Linked DNA regions of Homo sapiens: region 1 is linked to region 2. The links come from fine-mapping of genetic effects on gene expression. A gene starts in region 2. The other region holds a variant in brackets. All regions are shown on one strand. Distances are between the middles of the regions.

The links. PIP is the estimated chance that this variant, and not a neighbour inherited with it, causes the effect.
Region 1: its variant is the best candidate, but not a certain one, in a credible set for the expression of LINC02937 in whole blood (INTERVAL, PIP 0.61).

Annotation. Positions count from the first base shown.
Region 1 is chr9:91,152,525-91,157,893 of GRCh38, reverse strand. The region is part of intron 1 of LINC02937 (long intergenic non-protein coding RNA 2937); the gene reads left to right. The region is part of intron 2 of LINC00484 (long intergenic non-protein coding RNA 484); the gene reads right to left. Among named protein-coding and RNA genes, the nearest start is that of LINC02937, 8.1 kb to the left of the region's middle. The variant C/T (reference allele first, on the strand shown) is at 3,320.
Region 2 is chr9:91,160,521-91,165,889 of GRCh38, reverse strand. LINC02937 (long intergenic non-protein coding RNA 2937) reads left to right here and starts at 2,610. Exons shown (of 6, transcript NR_184105.1): 1 at 2,610-2,885. The region is part of intron 2 of LINC00484 (long intergenic non-protein coding RNA 484); the gene reads right to left. RefSeq lists enhancers at 909-1,203, 2,601-2,650.

The DNA.
Region 1 (5,369 bases), 8.0 kb after region 2:
TCTACCAGGAAATTTTAAACTTCATATGTGACTCCCATTATATTTCTTTATTTTTTGAGACAGGGTCTTGCTCTGTCACCCAGGCTGGAGTGCAGTGGTGCAATCTTAGCTCACTGCAGCCTTGACCTCCTGGGCTCCAGTGATCCTCCCACCTCACCCTCCCAAGTAGCTGGGACTTCAGGCGTGTGGTACCACACTCAGCTAATTTTTTTTTTTTTGCGATGGAGTCTCGCTCAGCTGCCCAGGCTGGAGTGCAGTGGTGTGATCTTGGCTCACTGCAACCACCGTCTCCCAGGTTCAAGCGATTCTCCTGCCTCAGCCTCCCATGTAGTTGGGATTACAGGCACCTATCATCATGCCTGGCAAATTTTTTTATTTTAGTAGAGACGTGGTTTCACCATGTTGGCCAGTCTGGTCTTGAACTCCTGATTTCAGGTGATCTGCCCTGATCGGTCAATTTTTTTAACTTTTATTTTTTTAATAGAGACAGGGTCTCACTATATTGCTTCAAGTGGTCTTGAACTCCTGGGCTCAAGTGATCCTCCTGCCTCAGCTTCCCAAAGTGTTGGGAGTACAGGAATGAGCCACCTTGCCTGGCCCCATCATATTTCTGTTGGACAGTGCTGCACTCAAATCCATGTTCTCAGAATCTGTATTTTAACTAGATCCCTGAGTGATCTCTGTGCTATTAAAGTTTGAGAAGCACTGCTCTCCGGTAACTACAGCCTGTGGGCCAAATCCGGCCCAACGCTTGTTTTTGTGAAGTGAATATTACTGGAACGCAGTCACACCCTTTGTTCACACACCATCTGTGGCTCTTTGTGCTTCAGGGGTGGAGCCGAATAGTGGTGAGCTCACAGCAGAGCCTGAGAGGCCATCTAGCCCTTATAGATAGTTTCCTCAACCCTTGGCCTAGGCCTTGTTCCTGCCAGCATCTTATGGTGTGGTCACCAACCCTGATGTGCCTGTTCATGTCCTTGTCAGGAAAGTCCCTAGGCACAAGTGCCTGTGGTAGAAAATGCTTTTGGAGGCCTGCTTCTTTCCTGGAAGTCACAGAGGAGGCCGAGGATCCATGGGATGGAAAAGATTAAAAGATGATTTAAGATCAAAAGTCCCTAGTGATATTGGAAAGGCCCTTCGAGGCCACCTGACATTATCTTGCTTGTTGATGGGTGAAGCAAGACCCCAATAGGGGGTGGGTGGTGAGTCCTTTAGGTGCCGGGTGAAGGAGCCGGTGGAAACCTGGGTGAAGCCGGATGGGTGCCACCTCCAGTTGTTTTTGCAACAGGGTGTTTTCCCAGATTGTAGGTGTTGGTGGGATGGGAAGGCCCAGAAGTGAGTTGTGCAAACAATGCAGAATTTTGTCCCCTCAAATTAACACTTGGTTTTAGTTGCAATATTTAATTTACTGTGCAGTTTTCAAATAATATTAAAAGAAGGCATGGGATTTGTACATTAATCAGTGGGAAGCATAGAGTTAAAAAGACAAGACAAGACTAAGAAATGCTGCTCTATTTTTCTGCTACTCAAAGCGTGGTCCACAGACCAGAGGCATGAACATTGCCAGGAGATTGCTAGCAATGCAGAATTTCAGCCGGCCCCACTGAGTGAGAGTCTGTATCTTAACAAGGTCCCCAAGTGACTCGCAAGCACAGGAGCGTCGGAAACCCATCATTTCAGTTACTTTTAGGCTTTGGTGTGTCTTGAAATCGCTTGGGAGGTTTCAGAATTCTGAAGCCCAGGTCCCACTTCAGAGCTCTGCCTGGGGAGAGGCCAGGTGTGGAGCCATCTGAGGGTCTCCAGATGGTTTGAACGTGCAGTGGAGGGTGAGAGCCTCAGTCAACACTGGCCTTGTTTTTGCTCTGAGTTTCACAGCCCTGAGCCCCAGTGTGCCATGTTCCAGGTAGAGTCATCTAGGAATTTGCTCCTGAGTCAGGCTGCTGAAGCCCACTGTTTGTTCCCTCTCCCTGGAAGGGTGGAGATCCAGCCCTCTCTGGATTCTCTGAACCTCTGGTGAAACTTTTGGAAGGTGTGACAAGGATTCTGACTCCAACTTCCATGGCCAGGCACTTGCATGGCAGTGAAAGAGCAACAGGATTTGGTGCTTCCCCCACTGGGTGATGCAGGAATGTTCTGGATATCAAACAGGGAGTTAGCTTACTGAGACATGATTTTCAAATCCATGAGCAGTATGCTTTCTTTAAGAAACACTTGTATAAATTGCATTACTGTGAGGAATGGTTCTCAGCACTTTACAGATATTAGCTCATAAATAACATGACAGTCCTGTGAGGTGGCTTTACAGCTCCACCCACCGAGAAGTGGAGTCAGTGTTGGTCCCCTTGATTCTGGGCCTGACTTAGTGGCCTGTCCACCAAAGTTACGGTGGAGTGATGCTACGTAACTTTCAAGGCCAGGTCATGAAGAGGTGACAGCTTCCTGCTGGCTCTCTGGAATACTCCTGGGCCACCGTGGAAGCAGTCTGACTGCCCTGATCGAGCATGGCCACCATGCTGCAAGGAAGCCCAACCAGCCCACAAGTGGAGAAGTGCTGAGGTACTGAGGTGCTAAGTGACTGTGATGGGCAGAGCCCCTGAGATTGGCAGGCCACTTGTTCCTGCATCAGATCTGGTTCGTCCTGACCAATGGGCCTTGTTTGTCATGGGAGGGGGCCACAGAAATTGGGGCCCCAGTGTAGCTGGTGTTATTCAAAGTCTGACTGGCTGAGGCCCCCTGAAGTCAGGGTAGACCCTGGGCTCTGTGCTCTCCCAGCTGCCATTCATGCTACACTTTTTCACCCATCCTTGGCCTCAGGTAGGGTCAGAGGCCTTCAGGGTGTCCACCTTCCCTTCTCCCCAAACACCTGCTGAGCATCCCACTCAGCCACACCACAGAGCTGCAGTAGGCTTAGGGGACTTTTCTGCCTGGGTTCCTTGTGGTCAGCCAAACACCAACTCTGACTCCTCATAGTGGGAAGGGTGGGATGGAAGCCAGGGGATGTCTGTTGGCAGGCACACAGCTCTGCAGGCATCTGCCAAACAGACCTTATCTGACAGCCACTATTGGGCAAAATGGTTCTCTAGACCTCAAAATATGCCCAAGAGGGGATGCCGGGAGTCACCAGCACCCAAGAGAGCACCCCGGGGACAGGGCTTCAGTTGTCGGTGAACTCCTGTCCCTTCTGCCACTGAGTCCTCCTCAACTAGGGCAACCATAGCCCCCGGAGACAGGGTGTAAGCATCTTAGCAGTGCGTTGCAGTGGAGCAGTGATGTAAATATATAAGGGAATATCTTAGAGACAATAGCATTAGAACAAGGC[C/T]GAGCCTTCAGTTTGAGACAAGGACTGGATGCACAATGGGCCCTTTAACAACATAGGTTTGAACTGTGTGGGCCACTTATATGCAGATTTTCTTCCACCTCTGCCATTCCTGGGACAGTGAGACCAATCCCTCTTCTTCCTCCTCCTCGACCTACTCCACTTGAAGACAGGGATGAAGACCTCTATGATGATCCGCCCCCACTTGGTGAATAGTAAATATATTTTCTCTTTAATGATTTTCTTAATTATATTTTCTTCTTTCTAGCTTACTTTACTTTAAGAATACAGTATATGACATATATAACATATGAAATATGTGTTAATTGGCTATTTATGTTATCAGTAAGGCCTCTGGTCAACAGCAAGCTATTACTGTAAAGTTTTGGGGGGAGTCGAAATGTATACGAGGATTTTTGACTGCATGAGAGTTGGTGCTCCTAACCCCTGCATTGTTCAAGGGTCAACTGTACTTCGAGGTACTACAATTTTAGTGATTAATTTGTCTTTCTTGTTGGTGCTTTATTGTGTGGGTTGATTTGTTTTCATGAATATGTATTGGTAAATAAAATAAAAGAGTTTTAAAAAAGGAAAGCCTAGGCTGGGTGCACTGGCGCACGCCTGTAATCCCAGCACTTTGGGAGGCCCAGGCGGGTGGATCATGAGGTCAGGAGTTCAAGACCAGCCTGCCAAGATGATGAAACCCCATCTTTACTAAAAATACAAAAATTAGCTGTGTGTGGTGGTGGGCACTACTCAGGAGGCTGAGGCAGAGAATTGCTTGAACCCGGGAGGCAGCGGTTGCAGTGAGCCGAGATCGCACCACTGCACTCCAGTCTGGGTGACAGAGCAAGACTTCGTCTCAACAAAAGCCTGTGTTAACTGCACCCATTAGCTGTGTGCTCTTCAGCAAATAACTTACAAGGGGCCCTCCACCTTTCCCTACTCATTCCCTCTGAAACTGCATTTGCAAAATTTATGACAGTGAGAGAAATCTGACTTAGTTGATTGCATCTTGCTTCTGACCTCCAAGCTGTCCTTGGTCAAGGCAGCATGGGCCAAGGTAACTTTAGGAGGAATATAGTTTATAGTTTAACTTAAAAGCAAGGGTAAAAGTAAATCCCTCCATAAAACTAACCCCCTCCTTGCTCAGGGACCAAAAACCGCCTTTGTAAGACTAATGAAGGATGACAAGATTAGAATTGTGGGAGAGGCCTGAACTCTGCCTAAATGATGGCATAATTTCTATAATCCCTTACTGCTCAGGGGTCATGTGGCCAGAGGTCACAAGATTTGTGACGTTCCCCAATTGCTCCTGTGGATACATCACTATTGTAGAACCTAAGATTGGTTTTATCTGATTTTTTTCAGACTGACTTCACCTGGACCCCTGACTCATAACTCAGCTGGTCCTGTGGTTCCACCCAGAGGTGGACTCAGTGCACAAGGATTGTTTTCCACCCCTTTATGATTTCCTCCCCAGCTAATCAGCAGCACCCATTCCCTAGTCCCCCAGCCCACCGAATACTTGAGTAATAACTTCATTTCTCCTGCATGGGCCAGCCTTACGTCAGTTAAACTCTTTCTCTGTTGCAATGCCCTGGTCTCAGTGGATGGATTTCGTGCAGTGGGCAGGAAGAACCCATCAAGTGGTTACACTTTTACCTCAGTTCCCTCCAGGACTCAGGAACTCCTCTCTGGGCCATTGTAAAGATGAGAAATAATACACATACAGCCTGGAGCTCAGTGTTATTTGGGCAAGGTTGTGGGTAAATGTTTGTAGGTAAAAGATGGGAATCAGATCTACCCAGACAGCTCTTCATGCATGCACGTTGGGGAGACAGAAAACTCACCATCCAGGGAAGGCTTTCACCCATGTGATGACTTATTTTATGAGTCAATTTGAGTGGACCGTAGGTGCTCAGATTAAACATTATTTGGGTGTGTCTGTGACAGTTTTCTGATGGGATTAGCATTTGAACCAGAAGACTTAGTGAAGCGGATGCCCTTCTCAATGTAGGTGGGCCTCATCCAACCCCTTGAGGGTCTGCAC
Region 2 (5,369 bases):
TCTACTAAAAGTACAAAAAATTAGCTGGATGTGGTGGTGCATGCCTGTAGTCCCAGCTACTCGGGAGGCTGAGGTGGGAGGATCACCTGAGCCCGAAAACTCGAGGCTGCAGTGAGCAGTGACCATGCCACTGCACTCCAGCCTGGGTGACAGAGTGAGACCCTGTCTCAAAAAAGGAAAAAAGAAAGAAAGAAAAAAAAATTAATATATAGCTCTGATAATACAATCTCAGTAATAAACCATTTGATTTATTTCCAATGTTATTGCTGTTTCCTGGAACAATGAGTGTGGTTCGATTTTATTTTTATTTTTTAGTTGTGGACAAGGTCTCCATTGTCTAAGCCACTGTGAGAATTCAGGTAAATCATGGCCCATCCTGGGACAGTTCCTCCACATTCTTGCTACTCAAAGTGTGCTTCATGGACTAGTGGCTTCAGCCTCACCCAGGAACGTGTTAGAAACACAGAATCGTGTCACCGCCCCAGACCTCCTGATGCAGAATCTTCATTTTAGTAAGCGACCCACTGCCCCCGCGCCCCCTGATGATTTGGGTGCTCATTAAAGTTTGAGAAGCACTGTTGGAGCTTGCCCTGAAGTTGTAGTGCGCTCTTACGGATTTCAAACCAAAAAGCATTACCTCTGTGAAGCCAGTCTGGAGCCTGGCTAGACCTTCTCCACCACCTCGGGGGCTTCTTATGTTCCAGAGTCTAACACTCTGGCCAGATACCAGGGACCTTTCACCCTCAGAACCTGTGCTCACATGTGGCAGTGAGCAGTGCCTGCACCTCAAGGCACCGCATCTTCCCAGCTACAGTGGGCCTGGCTGCTCCAGCTGCGCCCAACATGTGTTAGTAGGGGAATTAAATACCCCTCTCACTCCCAGTTTTGTGTATTTAAAAAATCCTCGGAAGAGAGTGGTATATGAGGTTTGAGGCTTATCAGCAGCTGCAGCAGCACAGGCCACGTCGTAGCTGTGAGTCATAGACAAGCATGCACACTGTGGCTGCCTGAGGCCTCTGAGCTGCCTTCCTCAGTCCTTCCCTCTGCAGGGCTTGGGCGTGGCGAGGCGGCTTCTTCAGCAAGTGCTGCGGTCAGCGTAGCGGGATTCAGAGTGCAGCTTGTCTGAGTGTCCTCTGCTTCAAGTTCACCTCGGCTGTCATCCCCCAGCAGACCACACATGCCCAGGGGAATGACCCTTTCTTACCACTGCGTCTTCAGACTGGGGTTGCTTTCTCTCCATCTCACCTTCTCCTGTACCACCTGAGGTACTAAATCTTCCAGGAAACCTTCCTTGAATGTCTTCTGACATCCCAGTGAGGGGCTCCTGATATTCACTTCCATAGTGCTTTGGTCACCTACTGCAGCATAAAACCACTCCAAATTGAATTGCTTTGCTCACAATTGCACAGGCCAGGGATTTGGGCAGGGCTTGGCTAGGCGCTTTTCACAAGGTGGGTCTCCTTTGTGGATGCTGTTTGATGCTGTCCTCTGAAGCCTCCACTGGAGGCTGGAGCTGCCTGTCCAAGCTGGTGGCCTGACACTGCTGCGGGGAGGCACAGGTGGCACTTTGATGAAAGCACCTACACGTAGCCTGTCTCTGTGGCTGGGGCTCTCTCACGGCGTGGTGCCTGGGCTCTGAGAGAGGGGGTCCTGAGAGCAAGTGCTCCAGGAGACACAGCCGAAGCCACGGAGCTCGCTGTGGCCTGGTCTGGAACTTTCACACACCACAAATGCTGCATTTCTGTTGGGTCAAATGTGTCACATAAGTCTGCACAGACTCGGAAGGAGGAGACTTACAGCACCATGCTGTGGCAGGGACAGCAAAGACTGTGTGGCCACGCTTCCTCTATCATGCGTGGCCAGGGTCTTCCCCACCACGACTCCTCCCCTAGGCTGTGCCATCTCACAGGGCTGCCTCCAAGCACATGCCTTCCCCAGCACCACACTCAGTGCTGGCCCTGTGAACACATCTGTGGGACTGATGGAGTAGAAACCTGCTTCAGCAAAAGTCGGGGAGTGGCAAACCTGGGAATGTAGAGAAGCACTCTGTGTGCAACACGTATTTCTTACGTACGCAATGATGGCTGAAGTCCATGCGGAGTTTATCACTACTGGTCAGTTTCAGAGTGTAGGTCAGAACCCGTGAGCCTTCCTTGCCAGAACAGTTTGGAGTGTCACACGAGGACTTCAGCCTGGACACCAGAACCAGGTGGGCAGTGGGGCCCATCACGTGCCACTGTAGTGTGAAGGGACAGGGTCTGCCTGCTGGTCTGCCCAGGGAGAAGATACTCCTAGCTCTTCAGGCTCCTACTCAATCCCCTGACAGCACCCCTTAGCGAAAAGGCACCACCCTCGGCGTCAAGCGCATCTCTGAATGAGGGTCATGGTGAGCTTGTGTTAGGAAAATAGCTCTCTTGCCAATACGCAGGCAAAGTAAGCTTCTGCAATTCTCAAAGTCCCGAGTTTGCAGAATTTTATTTACAGCAAAATGTTGGTTTACCCACAAACATCCTGCTTGGCTAAATATATCTCCTGCTCCTAGAACAGGACCTGTGGTTTTCAAGCATGGGTTTTGGCCTCCCTTCAGCATGCTGGCATGCATGTGCCCTGCTCTTTCTCCTGTGATCATCGGCATGATAGGAGGCGAGTGAGGAACTCAGTGTCTTCTGACACAGGCATCTCACAACACCAGTGCAGCCGGACCGTTGTCTGGTAGGTCTCTGTGCACCCAGGAGGACCTGGGCCTGCGAGAAGTCTGGGGCCCACTGCTGGGTATGCTCGTTTCTTGAGCATCCGAGTCACCTTTACAGTCTGCGATGATTGACGAGGTCAAACAGGACTCACTTGCATTGCCGGGTCTCTGTGGCGACAGGGAGGACTTGGAGGTAGGTGTTCAGGTCAGAAGGGACAGTCCTGACTTCCTCCACCGCTGTCTGCAGAAGCAGAGGCTGAAGCCACAGGCTGCGGGGGTGGGGAGCATGCTCCAGGAAGTGGCTCTCGGTGCTCCTGTCCACAGCCTCTGCAAGGAGAGGCACAGGCCCAGGCAAAGAACACAGTATGGCAAGTGAGGAGAAGGGGAAAAAATCAAATTACACGCTGTTTCTCCTTTGATAGTAGGAAGGCAGGAGGGAAGGGAGCTATGTAGACACAGGAGACGCTCCCAGTTCTGCTGGAGCTTAGGCTGGCCCTGGAGCTAAGCTTTAGCAATCTCCAAGGGAAAAGGATTGTTTAACAGAAAAATGGGGCCGAGGAAATACTGGACTTCAAATGAGAAGAAACTTTTTCAGAATCTTCGTGGCCTTGGGGCTGGTTGTCCTTCCCAGAACCATACTTTGTGGCAGTGGGGAAGTCATCTCTGATCTGAATCCTCCCCGGCCAGGATGTCAAATGGTCATTTACAGAGAATTAGTAACTGACAGGGAGAGGAGAGAACACCCTTCTTTGCCTGTGAGTGATGGCTGAGTCACACGCAGTGTGCGGTGATGGGCAACCATTATTTTTTGTTTGCTGAAATAATTTCATGGTGCAGATTGGTAGGGAGAGTTCATTTTTGAGAAAAGTCAGTTTCCTGTATTTGAGCAAAGAAACCACAAATCATTCTTTAACATTAGTAAATTTCTGTAAAGCACGAGTTGTCCTAAGTGAGGTGCGAGTGACACGAATCTTTTCCTCAGGCACAGAACTGTCATTCCTGCACTCTTGCGAGCCAAGGGTTAAATATTCAGGAATGTTCTGCCACCTGTTCTCAGGCAGCAATTTGAGCCTGGGAGGCCGCCCAGACAAGGACATGACAGCCCCCTCATGCCCCTTGCAGTTCTGAATGCCTCTCATCAATCCCGGGGTCTTGGGGGAATGGCAGAAGGATCCCCATCACAGTGGGGTCTCCCTTTTCACTTATAAATGCGGCGGGGCTGTGCTGTGCCTTCCGAGTGAGGAAGGGCTCTCTTCAGCCCACTTCACAGAAGCCTCCCTGGCAATCCAAGACCCCTAGTCCAGCTGCAGATGGCAAAGGAGACCCAAAGCACAGGAAAAAAACGCTATGGATAACCCTCAACAGCACTGCAGTGGTCTGAGGCTACTTGAGGCTAAGGGTGCAGAAGACCAGCCCAGGCACAGGTGTCAGGGAAGGCCCTGTCCTCAAGCGTTGGGAAGGAGGTGCTCTTCCAATCAGCCTCTGTCCCCCAACTGAGGGAAAGAGTCCGGCCAGGGGCCACCTGGGACCACCCAAGCCCACTGCATCTTCTCCTCCTTTTCCATCTGGTGACAGCTGCATTTCCGTGGGTGGCCAGGAGGAGAGTTTTTGATTCCCTTGCTGCCATGAAGACATGTGTGAAGAAAAGAAGCTGAGCTCACTCTGAGCCAGGTGTTAGAGGGCTATGGAATGAGGGGCTTTGGTGCTGGTGCTGCCTGGGGATGTTGAGTGTGTGATGGCTCCTAGGATCTGAGCAGGGCCAGGAGGACGCACAGGAGGGCCGGGGCGCCACCAAAGGCAGGGAGAAGCCCACGTGGACGTCATCAGATCCCCTCTTTGTTATTTAACTGAGACTCTAGTCCAAGAAGGACACCGTGTTGCGGGCCTTGAGAGACCCCTGGCATTGGCGCTCCAGCCAGGCCCCTCTGTCCTGTTGCTGTGTCTGCACTGCCCTGGCTTCCGTATGTTTTTGCTGTATGGCCAGGACCTGTGGCTCCCGTGGCCTGCCCTTGAGCTGCCCTTGAGCTGCCCTTGGACTCATGGAGCTGTTTTGCTGGCAGGCGCAGAGGCAGGAAGGACCCAGGGGTTTTGATCCTCATCGCCGTCCTCCCGGCCTCATGCCTTTGGCCAAGAGGACCAGAGTGGGAGTAAGAAGCCCGGGCAGACGGGCAGACTTGAGGGTGTCATTAGGATCCGAGTTCCCCTAGGGGTTGGGCTCCACCCACCCTGCCCCGGAACTGGCCCGAAATTGTGCCCTGCCTGCTGCTCCCCTCTGGGCCCTGCTCTGACTCGCCCTCCCCAGTATCCCCTGGAGCCCCCTTCGTCACTCCCTGGGTGCTCATCTCACGGCGTGCTCCTGAGGAACCAACAGCCCCTGCCCAGACAGCAGGGAAGCCTCAGCAGAGCCCTGGGGGCAGTTTGGGTGGTGGGGGGGAAGGGGAGGAAGGATGGAAGCCCACAGAGGGGATGTGCAGTGCGGGGGCGGGGGCTGAGCTGGGTAGAGCCGAGGCGCCTCTGCTCAGGCGTCTTCTGAGTGGGGCTCCAGGGCCTGCATGTTCCCCCCCGGCCCGCCCCCTCCACCCCGTGCAGTAGTAGGAGGATTCCCCCGCAGTGCGGGGGCTCCTGCCCTGGACAGGTCCCCAGGCCTCTCGCCCCGACCAGCAGCTTGGGCTGGAGC